4 separate regions of the Homo sapiens genome follow, and regions 1, 3 and 4 are each reported to be linked to region 2. The links are microRNA targets in miRTarBase. Many come from high-throughput screens and were not tested one by one. Region 2 holds a microRNA gene; each other region holds the end of a gene's coding sequence.
The links. The annotated mature microRNA hsa-miR-8485 reads CACACACACACACACACGUAU and lies in region 2 at 2,705-2,725, opposite strand. An mRNA with a match to its seed (bases 2 to 7 or 8) in the 3' UTR can be bound and repressed. Matches are read on the target gene's strand: a 7mer-m8 pairs with bases 2 to 8, a 7mer-A1 pairs with bases 2 to 7 and ends in A, and an 8mer does both.

Region 1: the mRNA of ZBTB7C is a reported target of hsa-miR-8485. The part of its 3' UTR that is shown has no 7-base or 8-base seed match.
Region 3: the mRNA of EIF5 is a reported target of hsa-miR-8485. Seed matches in the 3' UTR shown: 8mer at 3,722-3,729 and 7mer-m8 at 1,210-1,216.
Region 4: miRTarBase lists CD19 as a target of hsa-miR-8485. Seed matches in the 3' UTR shown: 8mer at 1,042-1,049, 7mer-m8 at 1,052-1,058, 7mer-m8 at 1,054-1,060, 7mer-m8 at 1,056-1,062, 7mer-m8 at 1,058-1,064, 7mer-m8 at 1,060-1,066 and 4 more.

The regions. Positions count from the first base shown.
Region 1 is chr18:48,025,029-48,030,102 of GRCh38, forward strand. ZBTB7C (zinc finger and BTB domain containing 7C) reads right to left here. Exons shown (of 5, transcript NM_001318841.2): 5 at 1,644-4,883. The coding sequence ends at 4,232. Among named protein-coding and RNA genes, the nearest start is that of SMAD2, 97 kb to the left of the region's middle.
Region 2 is chr2:50,693,468-50,698,541 of GRCh38, forward strand. It overlaps MIR8485 (microRNA 8485), which reads right to left and starts at 2,795; the gene lies at 2,705-2,795. The region is part of intron 5 of NRXN1 (neurexin 1); the gene reads right to left.
Region 3 is chr14:103,340,464-103,345,537 of GRCh38, reverse strand. EIF5 (eukaryotic translation initiation factor 5) reads right to left here. Exons shown (of 12, transcript NM_001969.5): 11 at 4,977-5,074; 12 at 513-4,575. The coding sequence ends at 4,486. Among named protein-coding and RNA genes, the nearest start is that of SNORA28, 5.2 kb to the right of the region's middle.
Region 4 is chr16:28,938,204-28,943,277 of GRCh38, forward strand. CD19 (CD19 molecule) reads left to right here. Exons shown (of 15, transcript NM_001770.6): 13 at 473-565; 14 at 669-775; 15 at 938-1,139. The coding sequence ends at 760. Among named protein-coding and RNA genes, the nearest start is that of CD19, 8.8 kb to the left of the region's middle.

The sequences.
Region 1 (5,074 bases), not on the chromosome of region 2:
GGCAGTGTTGAACTCTTGTGCTGACTGAGAGCTCACTCCTTCACGAGGGACCTCGTTCCTCTTTAGGGCAACTCCAGATGTTAGGAAGTTCTCTTCCTTTTTTTGGGCACCCAGTTGCCTCCTGCAATCTCTCTCCTATTGGCTTGGGTTGGCCAAATTTTTGGTGAAAGTTTCCCCTCCCCAACACACCTGTTGAAGTCCCAAGGCCTGTTCATGTATTCCTTAAGACTTCTTCTCCAGGTAAGCTGCACAGGTTTCTTTGGCCTGTCTTCGGAGGCCTCATCCTCCTTCCTTCACTCCCTCTTCCCTCCACTGGAGGCTCCTTTGCTGTCAGGACCCCACCTCCCTTAGCACCTTGGGGTCCCAGGGTGCAGGTCACACATGGCCGGGCTCCATGGAATTCCCACCTGGCCAGGGCTAGAAGGAGATTTTACTCACAGGAGATCAGGAGCACCCAGGGGTCAAGGCCCACTGGGCCCAGTTCCCTTCCCCTTCTCCATCTTCACCTATGTCACTCAGTGGACACTGACCCCCAGAATGAGGACCACATGATCCTAGAATGGCCGAGCTGAGCAGAATCTTGACGAGCAGCTGGCCTTGCATTTCTTGCACTGGGCTATGCTTACCCCTGAGCCCTCAGCCATGGGCTGGGGCCTCCCAAAGCTGTAGGGTGGCCAAGGAACAGTTCGACTTCACTAGAAGATTCTGGGGAAAAGGCAAGTCACTTAACTGGCAAGTCGATCAAAACGATGTTTTTATATTAAGACAAATGTTATGTAATAGAATGCAGAAGCATGAATTTCAAAGCCAAAACAGGAGACTTCAGAGTTTTACACTACAGATAGGTTACTTTGGGCTATTTCTTTAGTGTTCTGCCCCCAATTTGCCAATCAGCTGGCCCCCTCTGCTGAGGGGTGTTTAGATGGAGAACTTCGAGAAGCTCTGATTACTCCATTTCCTTTATTACTAGAGGTGAGGGAAGGGAAGACCAGAGTGGAGGGGTGATTAGACTGAAGACACACAGCTTGGAGGAGTCTAAATTGGAAACCCGGATCTGTTCTTTTCTCTGTACCAAGAAACGCTGCATAGACGTTGCCTACTACAGCAAGAAAGGAATCAAAAATAGAAAAGAGGCTCTGGGTTGACCCTTGGTTTTCCAGAAATGCAATTCGAAGAACAGTGTTACCAAGAGTCTGGGCTGTGGGTTGTAAGTAGAGCTGACTCCATTCAATGACAGAAGTATATTCCTTTACCTTAGGTTCTTTTAGGATCTAATGTTCTTTGGGAAAGAGGCTCAGGTGAAGAAAGGAGGAGGCCGATGCCAGCACCGGGAAGTGAGAGGAAGGAGACCCAGATAGCAGCAGGGCCAGCCGGAGCCCATTCCGGATGCCAGGCTGGGGAACTGGCAGGACTTCCCTTGCTCACACATCCTGGGGTGTAGCTGCACACGTTTGTGAACACACGCACACACACGCACACCTCGCACTCAGGCCCACAGGTGCTGCAAAGCTTAAGATCCAACCATGCCTTACAAAGCTGGAATGTAAGAGACTACTGAGAATTGAGTTCTGCCCTCCCTACCATGCAACACCCCCAGATAACTGAAACGGCAATTGGAAGGGGGAATCAATCTCACCAGGTCATTAAGCAAGCATAGCTCACTTTTACTCAAAACACTGTCCTTTAAAGTATAAAATAAGGGTCAAAGGTTTTTTTTTTTTTCTTTGTTAAGGTGTCTTTGACATTATTTTAAGTTTATGACACCCAACAATTAAAAACCTTAAGACTGGCTTGTTGCTGTCCTGTGAACTTTCAGAAGTCACATCTCACAGAAGTGCAACTCTCAATATAATTTAATCAAGTCAATTAATACTGTTTAATAAATAGGCCAGAAAATTAGCTGAGAGTTTTTCTCGGCGGGATGTGGCGTGCGACCGAAGTTATGGAAGATTGTCCCTTGAATCACTAAGGCAAACTTTGTTGAGTGTCATTTTACGTAGAGCAATCACATAAAAAAAGAGTTATAAATAGAAAAAATTCCAAAGTTCTCCCACAGACAGACAGGGAAATTGAAACATCAAAAAAAAAAAAAAATTGAAGCAAAACAAAAACACAACCACCCCTCCCCCCACAACCCATTTGCTTCAAGTTCTTGATCATACAGTACTCAACATCTTTGGATATTTTACAATGTACAATTCCAAACTGCAGCCAAGAAAAAACAGAAAGAACTAACCAGTCATCTGAAAAATTGAGTTTATAAGAAGTCATCACCTTTACAAAATAAAAACAAAAGCCCCAACACCACTGGATTCCAATTTATTCATGTTTCCTTTTTTTTTTTTTTTCCTCTCTTTTAAAGTCTGGTTCAGCCCCAATCACTTGGCTGATGGGGGGGAACACGGGGGCACGTTGGCTGGTGGACATGGGCATGCTTCAGAGAAAAGTGTCTGAAACGAAGACAGGAATCTGAGAGGCGGCTGCCCAGGCAGATGACTTCTGAGAACAGAGGGTGTGTGTAGCAATCCTGCTGGCTGGAGTGGCATCCGGTGGTGTGAAGAATCAGGGGGTCTCTTCTGGAGAGTTGTGAGAGGGACAGAGTCTGTGCTCTTCTCTGGCCTTTTTGTTTGTTGTGTTTTTGCTCAGGAAAAAGCCAAGGCAACAGGAAGAGCTGAAGTCTCTTTGTGCCCATAGCACAGGGATTGGGGACTCCAGCCCTGGGCTCTCCCTGGGGACGAACCCTCCTCCTCTCTGGGCTGCTCAGAAACCAAAGCAAACTTGGCAAGAAAAGAGAGGGGAGGGAAGGAGAGAGAAGGTCAGGAAGGCACGGGGCCAGCAGAGCCTTCCTTTTCAGGACCTGCTGCAAATTCAAGAACCAGGAGAACATGTGACAACTCTAACTCACAGAGCCCTTCAAACCTCAGAGGCCTCCACCTCCCTGCACTGAGCCCTTTTGTCAAAAATGGGGAGCCAAATACTCCCACTTCATCCCCAGAGGGAGGAGGAAGGGGTTGAGGGGGTTCTCACACAGCAAAGGGGACCATCACTAGCAATGCCAAGGCCCTGAGGAACCCTCAACTCAAAAAACAAACAGATAAACCCTAGAAACCGGTGTTTTGTCTGTTGTCAGGAATCAGGATGAGGGGAGACTGTTGCCAGGTGTTAAGAGGTGGCCCCCATCTCTTCGATGTTGGCCCTGAGAGCCCCAAGACACTGCACAGCCTTGGAGGGGGCACTGGAGATGGGGGTAAACATTAAATAGCGCCCCCAGGAGTCCAGACATGAACAGCGGCCTGCAGGGAAGGTAGGGTAGCATTCTGAGTTCGCAGAGCTACCTGTGGGCTTTGCTGAAGCTCGGAAGCTCCCCTGATGACCTGATCTCTGTCTAGTCTGGCCATATTTCTCACCTATGCTAATATGCTAATATAGAGCTGGATGTGATAAAACTAAGTCCAGAAAGATAAACTGTTTCCCCATGGACTTGGGGAGTACAAAGCTTCTACCATCTCTGTGATTCTCTGGGGGGATAGGTGTGTATGTGTTTAGAGGTGGAGGGCGGAAACCTCAGTTACCAGCCCCTTCCATAGCCAGGTGACACTGAGCTACAGAGGGCTGACCTGTCAAGGTCACAGGACAGGTCAGGGAAGAAATGGCCCGGGCCTTCCAGAGCCTGGTTCCTGACTGGTTCCAGGAGGCCTCCCTGCCAACAGAGCATTTCTTTCTATGTGGCAGGTGGGTAGTTCTCAAAAAGACCCCGGGGCCACTGGAGACTGGAAAATGAGCCCTCAGAGGAGTGTTGGCAGAGACTTTGCCATAGGGGGTGGGGCTTAACCAAGGTGCATGCCCAGCCCCTACCTCCTCCTGCTGTGGCTGGCTGGGCACCAGGCCAACCACCCCCTGACCCCTCATGACTCACCCAGCTCCTAAGTGCCCCTGGGCACCCAGTTCTTTGTGGCATGGGCCGGTGCAAGTTTCTATATGAGAGCCAGAGAGACAGGGAGGGAGGCCCGGGCTCCTGGCCTTTTGGGAAAAGATGCCCGTCTCAGACCAGCAAAAGGAGGCAGCTGCTTTAGGAGCCCGGGAAAATGCCATCACTGATAGTATTATTATTATTTTCCCATTTTCCCTTTGTGTTTTTAAAATGAAAAGTTCAGATCCATGGGGTAGGGTAGAGTGGGCCTGGAGGGAGAAGGACTGGAGGGCTGGTGGGCTGGAGCCGACAGGGACCAGCCTAGTTGTTGGCTTCGGACATGGAGGCCACGTGGTTGAGGCCGGCGAGCCCAGGGAGGCCGGCCAGGCCGGCGGCCCAAGGGTCGGGCAGCGGGAAGTAGGGCCGCGCCGCCGCCACGTTCTCGGCCAGCGCGAAGGCCAGGAGGCCCCCCGCGTTCCTCTCAGCCTCCAGCTGCGCGCGCCCGAACAGCTTCATCTGTGTCTCCTCGAACTGCCGCTCCAGCTCTTGCAGGCTCAGGGCGCCCTTGGGCGCTGCCAGGAAGTGCTTGGCGGGGCTGGGGCCCGGGAGGCACACAGCTGCGCCGCCCAGGTGGCCGCCCACCTCGCCCAGCGCAGGGGGCATCACGAAGGCCGCCTTGTCGGGGGCCGGGCCGCCGGGCCCGAAGAGCAGGCTGGCGGCCCTCCACGCAGCAGGCTTGCGGCCGCGTCGGGGCCGTGCCATGCGGCAGCTCTGGCGCTTGATGTGGCGGTGCAGGTGGTCAGAGCGCGTGAAGCTCTTGTAGCAGAACTCGCACTGGTAGGGCCGCACGCCCGTGTGGATGCGCATGTGGTTCTTGAGGTCGTAGTTGTGCACGAACTTGGCGTTGCAGTGGATGCACAGGTAGGGCCGCTCCCCTGTGTGCTTCCGCATGTGGATTTTCAGCTTGTCCTGCCTGCAATGCAGAGACTGGGGGTCAGTCCCGCAGGGAACACCAGGAGCCATTCCTAACCTTTTGCTCCCCCTTTCTCCAGAACCAGCCGAGGCTCCCTACTGCCATGGAGTCAAACCCCAGAAATAGGTCTCATGCTAGATCTACCCTCAACTGCTGCCCCACCTTAGACAGGTATGGTTACTCACCTGGAT
Region 2 (5,074 bases):
GACTTTTGGACTTCCTCCTGCCTACAATTGCGTGCAAAGGTCAAATAAACTGGCAAGGAACAAAATGTGAGACCACAAATGCAAAAATGGCACAACTGCACTACTGAAATAAATACGTTGAATCAATGAACTCTGATATTTCTGCATTAAAATGCAGCTTGCAACCACTAACTGCAAAGGAAAATATGAAGGGAAAATAAAGAGATGGTAACTAGGACCTAATATCTATATTACTAACTCAACTTCAGAAAGTTGGTATATTTTCAAAATTGCAGATATGTCTGCAACCTAAAGTATACTTCATAGCATTTAATTAATTAATTAATTTTGAAGTTTATTTTAGAGGCAGAATCTCACTCTGTTGTCCAGGCTGAAGTGCAGTGGTGCAACCGTAGCTTATTGCAGCCTGAAACTCCTGGCATCATGTCCCCCTTTTACCTCAGCCTCCTGAGTATCTGGAACTATAGGTATCCACTACCATGGTCGGCTAATTGTTTTTATTTTTTGTAGAAATAGGGTCTTCCTATGCTGTCCAGGATGGTCTCAAACTCCCGGCCTCAAGGGATTCTCTTGCCTTGGCCTGCCAAAGCACTGGGATTATAAGTGTGAGCTACCACGTCCAGCCCATAGCATTTTATTTTGAGGTTTAGGGACTAACGTGTGTATGATTTAGCAAGTGATGTTTAATGGCATTTTAAAATAATGGGTACCAAATAGAAACGTATGAATTGTTACTTGAATATAATTAAACTTTGTAAATTAATGGATTAGACTAGAAAGAAAAGATTCCAGAAATTTGAGGGGAAAAGGTAGGTTCTAGCACTGTCTCTTACATTTACATATTCTGTCTGTTTGGGCATGTTATTTTATCTTTTTGCATCGGTTTCCCTCTTAATGTATGGGTGAATATATAATAGTTGGAATTAAACCATAAATCAGTCAACTTCTAAGCTGTATACTATAAAAAACATTTGATGTAAATAATAAAACTCCTTGGAATCTGTCCCTCTTTGTGTCTCCATAACCTTCTATATTTGTTAGTTGAAATAATTATTTCTAAGTCTGAGGATTGTCCATTCAAGGTTGAACACTCAAGAAAACTGATTTATCTCTGTTCATCTCTACAAAGTCAGAATCGAAGAAGCATCATATCCTTTGGTTAAATTCAAGGTAGGGAAAAGAAAATCAAACCAATTCTACCAAAGAACAAATCAATTGATTTGATTATGAGTAGGTGGAGGTTACATTCTTTATCTTACTGAATTTGAGGTAAAATCGGTTAATCCTTTTATCCCCAATATTCATATTTAATCCAGAAAATGCTCTCTGGAACAAAAGTAATCATTACAAAATAAAGGCTTTATTCTACATTTTAGCAATAGTCTTTCCTTGGCTTATAAAAAATTAATTGCGGGGTATTCTCTTGATTGGGTACTTTAGATCCTGGTGACTGTTCTAACTGATGGGGCTGAAAGACAGTTCCCTTATCTCATAGCCAAATCACCTCCATGCAAATTGATCTGGGAGTGCCTTTAGAATAAACACAGCTGGATTCTCTGCAGCCATTTATGGGTCCAGTTTCCTAGGCTTAATTTTGATTTATAACTACTGAAATTAAATTAGCCATCTTCACTGCTTAAGGGTGGCTTTGATTTCACCAGTGCAGTAGGGAGACTATTTACCAACATATTTTATCAGTAACATTTCAACCTGGGTAAGGGGGTGGCGGTGGGGGGAAGGCATCTTATCTTTGGTATTTGTACTTGAGATTCCTTCAGAATATTTTAATTGTATTATTTACCGACAAATGTGAGGATTAGATTGTCAAATCAGACTCACATGAATTAAAGATCTTGCCCAGCATCAAGCTTTGCTAAATAATTTCAAGGATATAAGCTATCAAGTTCAGATAAGGTGCATCATATAACATAAAGTGGTGTACCTTATGTCATATGCTCCAGGTAGCCCTGCCTCATAGATCCTGGGTTCTATTAACTATGGGTAATCCCTTAGCCAGAGACATCTTGCTAGGGACAGAGATATAGTCTCTTATTCATAGTAAGTAACATTAGTCTATTTCCATTTGACAAAGAGATTAGACTAAGTCTTTGCTTTCCTCTAGGAGCACAAATTATTGTACAAAACGAGAAACAAAATTTGAGAGATTAAAATATGTGAAATATGTTAATAGTTCTAAGAAGGCTTTTATCTAGAACACGGTAATAAATGTCGACGTGCTATAGTAGGAAGAGTTGAAGATAAATGGTTAGATATCGCTTTTTATCCATATGACTTTGTGCATTAGTTTTTTGAGCCTCAGTTTTACTAATATTCCAAAGGATTAGGGAAATAAGCCTAACCAGAGTGACTCTGATTTTTTTTTTTTTTTTTTTGAGATGGAGCTTCGCTCTTTCACTCAGGCTGGAGTGCAGTGGCACAATCTTGGCTCACTGCAACCTCTGCCCTCCAGCTTCAAGCGATTCTTCTGTCTCAGCCTCCCAAGCAGCTGGGATTACAGGCGCCCACCACCATGCTTGGCTAATTTTTGTATTTTTAGCAGAGATGGGGTTTCACCATGTTGGGCAGGCTGGTCTTGAACTCCTGACCTCAGGTGATCCATCCGCCTCAGCCTCCGAAAGTGCTAGGATTACAGGCAAGAGCCACCACACCCAGTCGACTATGGAAATTTTAAAAGACAGTACATATACGTGTGTGTGTGTGTGTGTGTGTGTGTGTGTGTGTGTGTATGTATACACATATGCTATATACACACACACACACACGTATATCACAGAACTGAAGACCATAAAATGTTCTATACATATGAAAAAATGAGAATTTGAAATGTACATAATTCTTCACACAGATAGCTGACAGTGTTATAAATCTCCTTTCTTATAAATAAGAAAAACAGTCTCAGAAGTAAGTAATATTCTGATGGAGAGTTAGAAAAGAAAACCTGTCTTACAACTCTTTAAACATGCTTCTCCTCTAAGCTAAATCATAGTTTGCTAAAGAAGGTCGTGATAAGGTAGAAGAAAGACAAGAAAAGCCAAGGCAATGGGGTGAAGCAGGCGGAGAAAACTGTTTATGCCTCTTCTTCCAATGTCTATTTATTTTCTTTGTGGTTCTGAGCAACTATTTCTTCTTTTATCTTGCAACTGTCAAAGCAGCTCTCTGTAGAGAAACCAGCAAGCACACCCATTAAAACCAAAGCATGAATTTTCGGGTGAGGATCAGTGAGGCTCTCTTAAGAATACCTGAATTTTCACAGAGATAAACATATTTATTTGATTTAAATGGTAGAAAGTGTTAATTACTAAGTTTCATATACTACCAGGAGTCATAGAGAAGTCATTTTGGAGACCAAGAGTATATTCCTAGACCATGTAATCACATCATTTGAGTAGCTGCTTACTGAGTTTATTCACAATGAAAGCCTGATACATAAATTCTTTAAACAGAAACCAGTGGCATTGTTAATTTCCACTTTTGTTTCCAAATTGTTGCTTTTGTCTCATTGAGAGCATATTACTTACTTCAAGCACCTTAACAAACAAAGCTGGGTCATACACAAACGTCCTACTGTACCAGCAATAAGACAATATGAATACCCTGCAACCTCTCAACAACCAGAAGACAAAGATGTATTTGGAAGGGGCAGATGGGAAGTGAAAAAGAGAAATAAAATATACTTTACAGGGAATATTTTGCACACGTAATTCTGAGTGTTATATTTTTAGCTTGTATAAATAAACTTCATTAGTCTTCATTTTGAATATACAGGAAAAGTTTTTTTAGAAAAGACTCATTGTCACAAGCTGATAAGGTAAGTTAGGACAGTATATGATTAATATGCTACAATGATGTCTAAGAGAGAGGATGCTCATTAAATTTGTGTGTGACAAAAGTTGGAAAGAGTGTTAAGACCTTGAAATACTGGAGCATCTTTCAAAGTGAAACTTGACAAGTTAGAGAAATGGTCAGATAGAGAAATGGATTTTAATCAGACTGAAAGGAAAATTAATGTATTGGTTTTGTCAGTTGTACCTTCATCTTGAACGTAATGACTGCCTGTTACTTCCTCTGTGGTTTCATCCGAACCTAACGCGACACTCCCCTGAAAGGTCTCCTCTCTCCCTTCCTTGCTCTTCTGTAGCCCATGCTTCACTTCTCAACTATGGTGATGTTTTGAAGATGTGAATTAGATTACATCATTCTTTTCTTCAAATCCTCAAATAATATTTAGAATATAATTCAAATCCTGGGTTGCCATGGTCTACAAGGCCTCAAATAAAATAGGTTCTGCCCACATCTTTGTTTCATTTTCTTTCTTTTCTCTGCCTCCAGGTTGGCACTTTTGTTCCTTTAACTCTTCAATTTACCTTGGTGCTTTGTACCAGCTGTTCCCCCAAAGTAGACAGCTCTCCATAGCTCTTCACACGGCTGCACTTCCTGCTACTCTCACTTAAAGTCACTGCCTTGAGCCAATTTCGTTAATCTGGCTCTAAATAACAACACAACCCCATCTACACTACAGTTCATCCTAATACCAGTCTAATTTTCTTCATAACACCTATCATTATCTGAAATCATCTTAGTTGTTTCACTTTAGAATCCTCCTTCTCTCATGAGAAAGTAAACATTGTGCGGGCAGGGTCATGGTCTTGTTTGTCCTGTACTTCCCACCCGTACAGCAGTGCTGGCACTTAGTAGGTGCTCAGTAGATATTCGTTGACAGTATAAGACAGAAGTCCTCAAATGTTGTCCAAGGACATTTGGTAGTCCCTGAGACTTTCGGGAGGGCCAAGGGCCAAAATCTTTTTCATCATCTCACAAATATACAACGGTGCTGTCTAGAGGCCAAAGGATATATGCTATCACAAAAGATTGCCTGCAGAAGTAGTTGTGAGAATCTAGCTCTCTTAAGCCAAACATCAAAGAGATTGTCAATAATGTAAAATAAGTCACTCTTCTCACAAAATTATCTTAGTGTTGGAATATAATTATTTTTCATAAAAGTACACAATTTATTTTAACATGCAACATGCAATGTGGTGGCTATTTTAAAATG
Region 3 (5,074 bases), not on the chromosome of region 2:
AGGTTCAAGCGATTCTCCTGCCTCAGCCGAGTAGCTGGGATTACAGGCATGCACCACCCCACCTGGCTAAGTTTTTGTATTTTTAGTAGAGATGAGGTTTCGCCACATTGGTCAGGCTGGTCTCAAACTCCCAACCTCAGGTGATCCACCCTCCTCGGCCTCCCAAAGTGCTGTTATTACAGGCGTGAGCCACCACGCGTGGCCGAGAATGGTTTTTAAAGGATAAATGAAGATTACATAACTGTTTTGAGATTACCACCTGTGGCTACAAAGATCCATAACAAGGGCGATGCAAGTCCACAGCTGGACAGGCTGTTGCTGGGTAGATGTCCTTGAAGTATTTTTTGCATAAGGCTGTGATGCTTTTTGTGCAAGGCTGTGGTTTTTGCAATCTTTTGTGATAATTTCGTTATTGGGCATACCAGCATGAGACCCTTCACCATCGCAAGACTGCAAACCCTACTCTATTTGTTCGGGTTGTTTTTTTGTTTCTTGAACACAAGTGACTCCGCTTTGATTGACAACTTTCACACTTTATTAAAATCTACTTTTTTCTGAGATTCAAAGAGCTACATTTTTGGTTAGTGTATGTCTACTATACCTTTTTTCATCCTTTCAACATCTTTTGTCACATTTTAGGTGATGCTCTTGTAAACAGTGTATTGCTAGACCTAAAAATCCAAGCTTACAACTTGTCCTTTACCTGATACATTTATTCCATTTACTTTCATTTGGATTTTTAAAAATGTTAACTTAATACGTCTCTTTCAGATGTCCCTGCTTTTTAGTTAATTGTGTTTTCTACTCTCCTAAAGACTTGATTTTTATTTTTTAGTTAACTGACCGTTTTTAAAGAGGTTTTAGGCTCATAGCAAAATTGGGTGGAATTTCCCCTACTGCCCCAGCCAGGCATTGCTTCTGACTGCAGCATTAGGCTTCCAGTGGGATTGAGTGCTGCACATAAGGGTCTCCACCCCCAGCAGATATGGAAAGGCAATCCCCTAGTTTTACAGTAAGGCCTGGGACAGAATCCAAATTTGATCCCAACACCCAAGTGAATCCTCCTCCTCTTAAAAAGAAATAATTGACTGCATAACCGAACTGCAGGGTCAACTCAGATCCTACCATTCACCTGGAGGTCCTGACATTGCACCTCCCAGTCTAGGTCCCAAGAAAAGAACTCTGTAGCTTCTATTCTCATATCCCAGCACACACAAGTCCTTAAAATTTCTGGCCATAAAAACCACAGAAATTTGATTCCCAGAAAAAAACTGTTTGGCTAGACCAGACAGGTGGACATAAACACCCTGAGCTCCCAACCTATTAACAAAGGCTCACAGGGTCACTCTGGTGCACAAACCTACAATGAGACTACCTGCAAGTCATTTGCTGTCACCCCACTTATGGAATGTCACTATGAATCAAGATCTGTACTGGGGACAGAGATGACCAAAGTGACTCCCTGTCCCCTTGGGGTCACACAGCACATGCAACGAAAGTGCAACACTGTTTCTGGTACTAAGACTGCTCTGGCTTTGTAGTAGTCAGGGAGGCTGAAATTTGAACCATCAAAAAGATGATGCAGGAACAAGGTCAACTTTGCATTTGCTGGTTACTCCGGAATACTGGTAGGTCAAGCTGTAGCAATTAAGAAAATAGCTGGTTAGATAAGGATTGTCTGCAGACTTGTCAAATAAATTTAAAATACATGAAGGGTTATTTTGTTAGATAAGTGACCTTGGTACAACAGTACCTATGCCTCAGGACCACGATGAGGACTGACTGAGCTAACAAAATGCAAAAGGTTCAAACTCACTTATCTGCTTTTTGCAGATGGCCAGCTTTCACTTCTGCCATCTCCAGGCCAAAGGCATAAAGTCAGTGCTTGGTACACTGGAACAAACAGCTTGGGGCTCAATTTTGATACCCCTCCCTTCTCAAGCGGGAAGCGGTGGATTAGAGACCTCCTTGCCCATCTCTAAACTTTAGGACCCACACTAAAAATTTTTAAGTCAATTTCAGAATGCACTTGTTTAGAAAGCAAACCTCCCCATTCCCTCATTCTTAACTAGAGATATATACAATTATTCACAGTTACATAGCTGTATGTATGTTCCCTATTAAGCACCTGCCAAGATTTCAAGTAATAAAACTGAGGCAGATGCTCAGTTCACAGACAAGACTAGCAAATAAAGCCAGTGACCCAATGAAATGAACAACTTTTGTGAGTGGGGCTGGCAAGTGTAACTGCAGGATACATCCAACACAAATCCAAAGCAACGGCTACAAAACAGGGCAGATTCCAATGCTTTGATCTCATTATAAAATGAAAACTTGTTAACTTTAATATTAAAGCAAAGACAAAATACAATTTTATCATTATTTTAATCAAGTAACTTAGCTGTTTAAACAAATCCTTAAGACAGTTCAATAGAGCAAAGTGAAGAATTACTCTATTAGGATAACCTGTGAACAAAGTTCAGATTATGTGAATTTGTATTCCATTCGAAGTTTGGCACCAGACTGAACACTGGTTTAAGCCAAATTTTTTAGTGTTCTAGAAGCCCTGAACATGTTTTCCCTCAGATTAAAAGTAGAACCTTTATAATAGAACCTCATTAGCTTGACACTGAGTATGCTGAGTGCAACTTAGCTTAGGTCACCAGTATCTCCTACAGAATTCCAGTTAATGAAAGCAGATCAGCCTTGCGGCAAAGAATTTGAAACCTAGGCAACATACAAGTTTGAAGAAAAAAAAATCCTCTTTGGTGTGACAAAGCACATTCCCTCCAGGTATATGGCTCCTGCTCCACTTGCACCCGAATCTTGATCAAAGGCAGCTGGAGACCAATTCTTGTCTCTCCAATAAGATTGCTAGGTTTCAATTCCTTAAAATATCAAGCCAACCAAGTTTTATTACATCAAATGTTTCTATCATTTCAATGTGAAAATTTTTTTACGCCTATTTGTTATTAAGGTCTCATTATCTGTGAAATAATCACAAAAAAACAGAGGTGAATGGTATAAGCCACTGCTCCAAAATTAACCCTATCGATTCTCGATTCCCACTGTGCACTTTGTGAAAAGGGTAACTGCCAAGAGGTTTAACCTTGAAGATGATTACTCAAACAGTCAGAACCCATAATATGAGTTTAGATCAGGCAAGGAGTTCATGAGGAAGTTATCAACTCTTGTGTGTCCAAATCTAAAGCCCTGCATGGGCTCTGTCAGGTCCTTGTCACCTGCACTCAGGTGGCCATCAGACTTCTTGGGTGCCTGGCTATATTCAATGTGAAGTAAAAAATATCCCAAGTCTTACACCAAAATAGAGGCTCTGACTTAGAAGTATGCTTTTAGCTTTCTTTTTAAATAAGACATTCTGGAAGAAAAAAAAAAGAAAAAGGAAAGAAAATCAAGTTTGAAACACAGTTAACACTTATTTTGGCAAGAAAGCAACCAAAATCTAAAAAGCATAAACTATGTGTCCAAATGTAAAAGGCATTACAGAACAAACTGCAAGAGGGGAAAATTAAAGCCACACTGAACGAAAAAATACAGTATGTCTAACATTTTGGAATTGTAATTTAAACCCTAAGGGCAAAAGCTGAAAAATCATGCTTAGGTTGCTAGTTAAGTGCACCCTTCCTTGTTTCTCCCAAATAAAATCAGTTTATTAATTGCACCCCAAAGCAAGTTCTCTCAGTACAAAGTAACTACTACGTACACACAAAATGCTTGTTAATGTAATAATTTCCCTGGCTCATCCAACGTGCAATGCACACGACTTCAAAGACAATTTGGGGCAAGTGTACATGAAATGAGAAAACAGCTCTCCAAGTTTCAAATCCTGCTCTTACATTATTTATAGGACACTGAGGTCATATTTACTTCTTGGTTAAGATGTTACACTGTCATTTCATTATCAGTCTACCTCACAATGTACATTACCAGATGCCAATTTGAGGAACTACAGAGATAAAACTTTAGTACTTTCTTAATGGGCTGAATAAATTAATTACAATTAAGTTTGCTTTACATCCTGTTGAGGACCTCTTTGCAGCCCCAGGACCTAACAATATCTGGCAGGCTCCAAGAATGCTCATCAGGTGAAATGATGGCAGAACATTTAAAGTAAGGAGCCAGTTACTTCAGCTTAAGTCATTCAGAGCCAAACATCTGAAGAACGACCAAAATCAAACCTTTATTTTTATAACTGTATAAATGTGATCCAAATGTGTCCACCACTAGTTTTTCAAAAAGAAACATGCTATAAATAAGCAAACTACATCTGCTCACTGATGTGTATGGACTCCCTAGATGTCTCATTGGGCTTAATAACAGACCACTCACAGTAATAGATTTTTAGTGTAAAGTGTAGCATGATGTTAAGCCATTTTAGCTTTTGCACATACATGTTGCACTTCTGGCTGATAATGGAGGAAAATTTGCAGCATTATACTGTTAAGCTAGGTTGCATCCATCCCTTTAAATGGCATCAATATCGATGTCGTCATCCTTGTTGTCTGACTTTACAGTCTCAACTTTCGGTACACTGGCAGCCTTCGAATACACCACCTGTTAAGAGGAATGATTTTATTCAACATAAGCTGATAAATCTGTTTATAAAACAAATCAATGTAAATTGTGGTCACAGAGGAGGAAACTGCCTAGATGCAGCTATTTCTTCTTCACGGAACAGCTCTGTTATGCAAACACTGCAAGTTCTCTTACACAGGCTCCAGTCTAAGAGCATTTTTAAAGTTTTTTTATAGACTATAATGTGTAGGAGTAGGAACACAGTTTCCATCACCCTTTCTATTATTTTCCAAATTATTGAGAGGCTGTATTTTACTGCATCTTAAATTCTAAACCTGAAATTACCCCAAACTGCCATTATATCACTCCTCACAAACCTTTTTAAATCTCAAACACCCATGCCAGCACTGTATCCAATACCCTCCTCCCCCAATGTTTACCTCAATGTTCTCATCTTCATCTTCTTCTTCGCCACCAGAAGATTCTTCCTCTGCCTCCTTCAACCATTTTATAAATGGTTCTGCTTTGACACGAATCT
Region 4 (5,074 bases), not on the chromosome of region 2:
CCCTCTGTTGCCCAGGCTGGAGTGCAGTTGCCACCTCTGCCTCCTAGGTTCAAGCGATTCTCATGCCTCAGCCTCCTGAGTAGCTGGGATTATAGACGTTTGCCACCACACCTGGCTAATTTTTGTATTTTCAGTAGAGACAGGGTTTCGCCATGTTGGCCAGACTGGTCTCCAACTCCTGGCCTCTAGTGATCTGCCCGCCTTGGCTTCCCAAAGTGCTGGGATTACAGGCATGAGCCACCACGCCCAGCCCAGTTCTGTTCTTGACCCCTTCCTTAGCCATAATCTAACCCATATCTAACCCTGACCCTACAGCTAACTGGGGCCCCAAACTCAATGCTAACCAAATCACCCCTTCCCAGCACAGCATGGGTAATGCTCCTCACCTTCCTCTGCCCCTCAGTCTTCCTCCTTACCGTAGGCTGTACTTCCCATGCCCTAGCCTCCAATTCTCCATCCCCCGCCCAAGCAGGGTCCCAGTCCTATGAGGATATGAGAGGAATCCTGTATGCAGCCCCCCAGCTCCGCTCCATTCGGGGCCAGCCTGGACCCAATCATGAGGAAGGTGGGTGCTTCTGCCGCTGTCCCCTGCTGTCCCCTGGGCTGACTTTGCCTTCCAGCCTACTTCCAGTGCCACCCATGTTCTCCTCCTCCCTGGTCCTATCCAGATGCAGACTCTTATGAGAACATGGATAATCCCGATGGGCCAGACCCAGCCTGGGGAGGAGGGGGCCGCATGGGCACCTGGAGCACCAGGTGATCCTCAGGTGGCCAGGTGAGCTGGGACTGCCCCTAGGGAAAGCGGGGAGGGAGGGAGATAGGCACGGATGGCAGTGGCTGCTGGCTTTCAGGGAGGGAGAGGGAACAGGGTTCCTAGGGCCTGGTGGGCAGGGGGAGGACTGCTGGACCCCTCCCCATCACCGTTTCTTCTGCATAGCCTGGATCTCCTCAAGTCCCCAAGATTCACACCTGACTCTGAAATCTGAAGACCTCGAGCAGATGATGCCAACCTCTGGAGCAATGTTGCTTAGGATGTGTGCATGTGTGTAAGTGTGTGTGTGTGTGTGTGTGTGTATACATGCCAGTGACACTTCCAGTCCCCTTTGTATTCCTTAAATAAACTCAATGAGCTCTTCCAATCCTATGAAGTAGTGCCATTGTGTGGGAAGGAAGGGAAGGAAAGGAAAGGAAGGAAAGGGAAGGGAAGGAAAGGAAGGGAAGGAAAGGCGTCTTGAATCCCATGGAAGAGGGAGGGCTGCCTTCTGCATACAAAGGGCCTTTTCCCGGTGCGGTGGCCCACACTTGTAATCTCAGCACTTTAGGAGGCCAAGCAGGTGGATCATTTGAGGTCAGGAGTTCGAGACCAGCCTGGTCAACCTGGTGAAACCCCGTCTCTACTAAAAATACAAAAATTAGCTGGGTGTGGTGGCGAGCCTGTAGTCCCAGCTACTTGGGAGGCTGAGGTTGGAGAATCACTTGAACCTGGGAGGCAGAGGTTGCAGTGAGTGGAGATGGTGCCATTACACTTCAGCCTGGGCGACAGAGCGAGACTTCGTCTCAACAAAAAATAAAAATAAAAATAAAACAAAGGGCCTTTCCCCTTCCATGGCCTAGCCTTCACCTACTGCCCTCTTTTGCCCGCTGCCCACAGATCCGTCACGATCAGCCCCCTCCCACCATCCAGCTACCCAATTATCATTAATTCAGCAGTTACATGCTGGGTGCCCAGTGGAGAAACAGCCCAGGAATTAGCAGTCTAGTTAGAAGATGCTATTCATTGTCACTGAGTACTTATTTATTGAGCATCTACTATACTCTTCTTTTTTTTTTTGTTTTTGAGACAGGCTCTCGCTTTGTTGCCCAGGCTGGAGTGCAGTGGTGCAATCATGGCTCACTGCAGCCTCGACCTCCCAGGCTCAAGAATTTCTCCCACCTCAACCTCCCAAGTAGCTGGGATTACAGGTGCCCGCCACCATGCCCAGCTAATTTTTTGCATTTTTAGTAGAGACGGGGTTTCACTATGTTGGCCAGGCTGGTCTCGAACGCCTGACCTCATGATCCACCCGCCTCGGCCTCCCAAAGTGCTGGGATTACAGGTGTGAGCCACCGCACCCGGCCACAGCTCATTTTTTATTTTTTGTAGAGATGAGGTCTTGAATGCCTCATGCTGCCCAGGCTGGTCTTGAATGCCTGGGCTCCAGTGATCCTACCAACCTTGGCCTCCCAAAGTGCTGAGATTACAGGCGCCCACTATCACACCCGGATAATTTTGTATTTTTAGTAGAGACAGGGTTTCCCCATGCTGGCCAGGCTGGTCTCAAACTCCTGACCTCAGGTGATCCACCTGCCTCAGCCTCCCAAAGTTCTGGGATTACAGGCGTGAGCCACAGTGCCCGACCTTACTATGTTCTAAGCACTAATATCAATGAGCAAATTTTATCGTTACAATAACTTCACAAAGATAGTAAGCACTTATTATGTGGCAGGATTGTATTCAAATATTTTATGTATATTTTATGGACATGTTATGTATGTTTGTGTATATTCATTCATTTTATCTTTACGACCCTATGAGGTAGGTATACTATTAATATTATTTTCACCATTTCTTTTCTTTCTTTCTTTTTTTTTTTTTTTTTTTTTTTTTTGAGACAGGGTCTCACTCTGTCACCCAAGCTGGAGTGGGTGGTGCCATCTTGGCTCACTGCAACCTCTGCCTCCTGGGTTCAAGCTATTCTCCTGCCTCAGCCTCCCAAGTAGCTGGGATTACAGGCCTGTGCCACCACACCTGGCTAATTTTTGTATTTTTAGTAGAGATGGAGTTTCTCCATGTTGGCCAGGCTGGTCTCTATCTCCTGGCCCCCAGTTAACAGCTCCCTGCCTCGACCTCCCACCCTGTTTTTGTTGTAGAAATTTCTTCTTTATCTCTGAGCATGTAAAACTTACTTCATCTTTTTTTTTTTTTTTTTTTTTTTTTTTTTGAGACGGAGTCTCGCTCTGTCACCCAGGATGGAGTGCAGTGGCACTGTCTCGGCTCACTGCAACCTCTCTCTTCCCTGTTCAAGCGATTCTCCTGCCTCTGCCTCCTGAGTAGCTGGGATTATAGGCATGTGTCACCACACTCGACTAATTTCTGTATATTTAGTAGAGACGGGGTTTCACTATGTTGGCCAGGCCGATGTCGAACTCCTGACCTCAGGTGATCCACCCACTTCAGCCTCCCAAAGTGCTGGGATTGCAGGCGTGAGCCACTGCGCCTGGCCTTTTTTTTTTTTTTTTTTTTTTTGACAGAGTCTTGTTCTGTCACCCAGGCTGGAGTGCAGTGGCTTGATCATAGCTCACTGCAACTCCTGGCCTCAAGCAATCTGCCTGCCTTGCCCTCCCAAGGGTGCTGGGATTACAGGCACCCAGCCCCTAAAACTTCTTTCATCTGTATTAACATTACTACGATGTGCCAGGCATCGTACCGTTCTCCAGGTGGCGACTCATTTTATCTTTACCACTGTCCTATGAGGAAAGTACACTAAAAATTATTATTATTTTACAGCTAAGGAGATTGGGGCACAGATAAATTAAATACTTCAATTGCTAACTGACTTTAGGCAACTTAACCTGACCCTCCACTGCCTCAGCTATAAAATCCCATTAAGGCGGAGGCATGCTGTAGTTACTATTACTTTTACATGGCATGTAAAAGAAGTCAAAGAAACCTTCCATGGAGGCAGGGCACAGTGGCTTATGTCTGTAATCCCAGCCCTTTTGGAGGCCAAGGCAGGTGGGATCAACTGAGGTCAGGAGTTCGAGACCAGCCTGGCCAACATGGCGAAACCCGTTTCTACTAAAAATACAAAAATTAGCCGGGCATGGTGGCAGGCGCCTGTAATTACAGCTACTCGGGAGGCTGAGGCAGGAGAATTGCTTAAATCCGGGAGGCGGAGGTTGCAGTGAGCCGAGATGGCACCACTGCACTCCAGCCTGGGCAGCAGAGCGAGACTCTGTCTCAAAACAACAACAAAAACCTTCCATGGTGACCCCATGAGCCATGAGAATGGAAGTCCCCATGGAAGATTTCTTTGATTTCACGGAAGGTGTCTTTGACTTCTTTATGTTTCTCCTGCCTGTGACAGCCTCATGGGTTCCTGGGGCCCCACTGACAACCTCTGGGGCCGGCTTGCTTTGGCTCCTGCCACAGTCTTACAGGCTGCACAAGATTCTGACCATTTTATTTATGAGTTCCTCAGAACAGGTTTCTGCACCAGAGGTTTGGGCTAACTCCAAGCCTATACTTTGGTTAGCTTTGGGGTTCTGAGTGCCTGGATGGCTTTTTCCATTCATTCTCAGGCGGCTCGCTTCTACATTGTGAGCCAGGGCCTGGGGATGGATTTTTTTTTTTTTTTTTGAGATGACGTCTTGCTCTGTTGCCCAGGCTGGAGTGCAGAGGTGCGATCTCAGCTCACTGCAATCTCCGCCTCCTGGGTTCAAGCGATTCTCCTGCCTCAGCCTCCTGAGTAGCTTGGACTGTAGGCACGTGCCACTATACCGGCTAATTTTTGTATTTTTAGTAGAGACGGGGTTTCTCCATGTTGGTCAGGCTGGTCTCGAACTCTTGGCCTTAAGTGATCCACCCACCTCAGCCTCCCAAAGCCCAAAGTGCTGGGATTAAAGCCCAGGCTGGAGTGTAATGGTGTGATCTTGGCTCACTGCAACTTCTGCCTCTTGGCTTTAAGCGATTCTCCTGCCTCAGCCTCCTGAGTAGCTTGGATTACAGGTGCCTGCCACCATGCCCGGCTAATTTTTTATATTTTTAGTAGAGACGGTGGCGGGTCGGGGGGAGTTTCTCTATGTTGGCCAGGCTGGTCTTGAACTCCTGACCTCCTGATCCACCCGCCTCGGCCTCCCAAAGTGCTGGGATTACAGGCGTGAGCCACCTTGCCCGGCCCCCATGTGGGTGTTAAAATGCCAATCGTAGGGGATTCCTGCATTCCCACAGGCTGCTTGACTTCACTGTCCCCACTGCCCCCACCACTGTGGCTTTGATTTTCCTCCTTATTCTGGAACCAAGAAGATTCTGTCT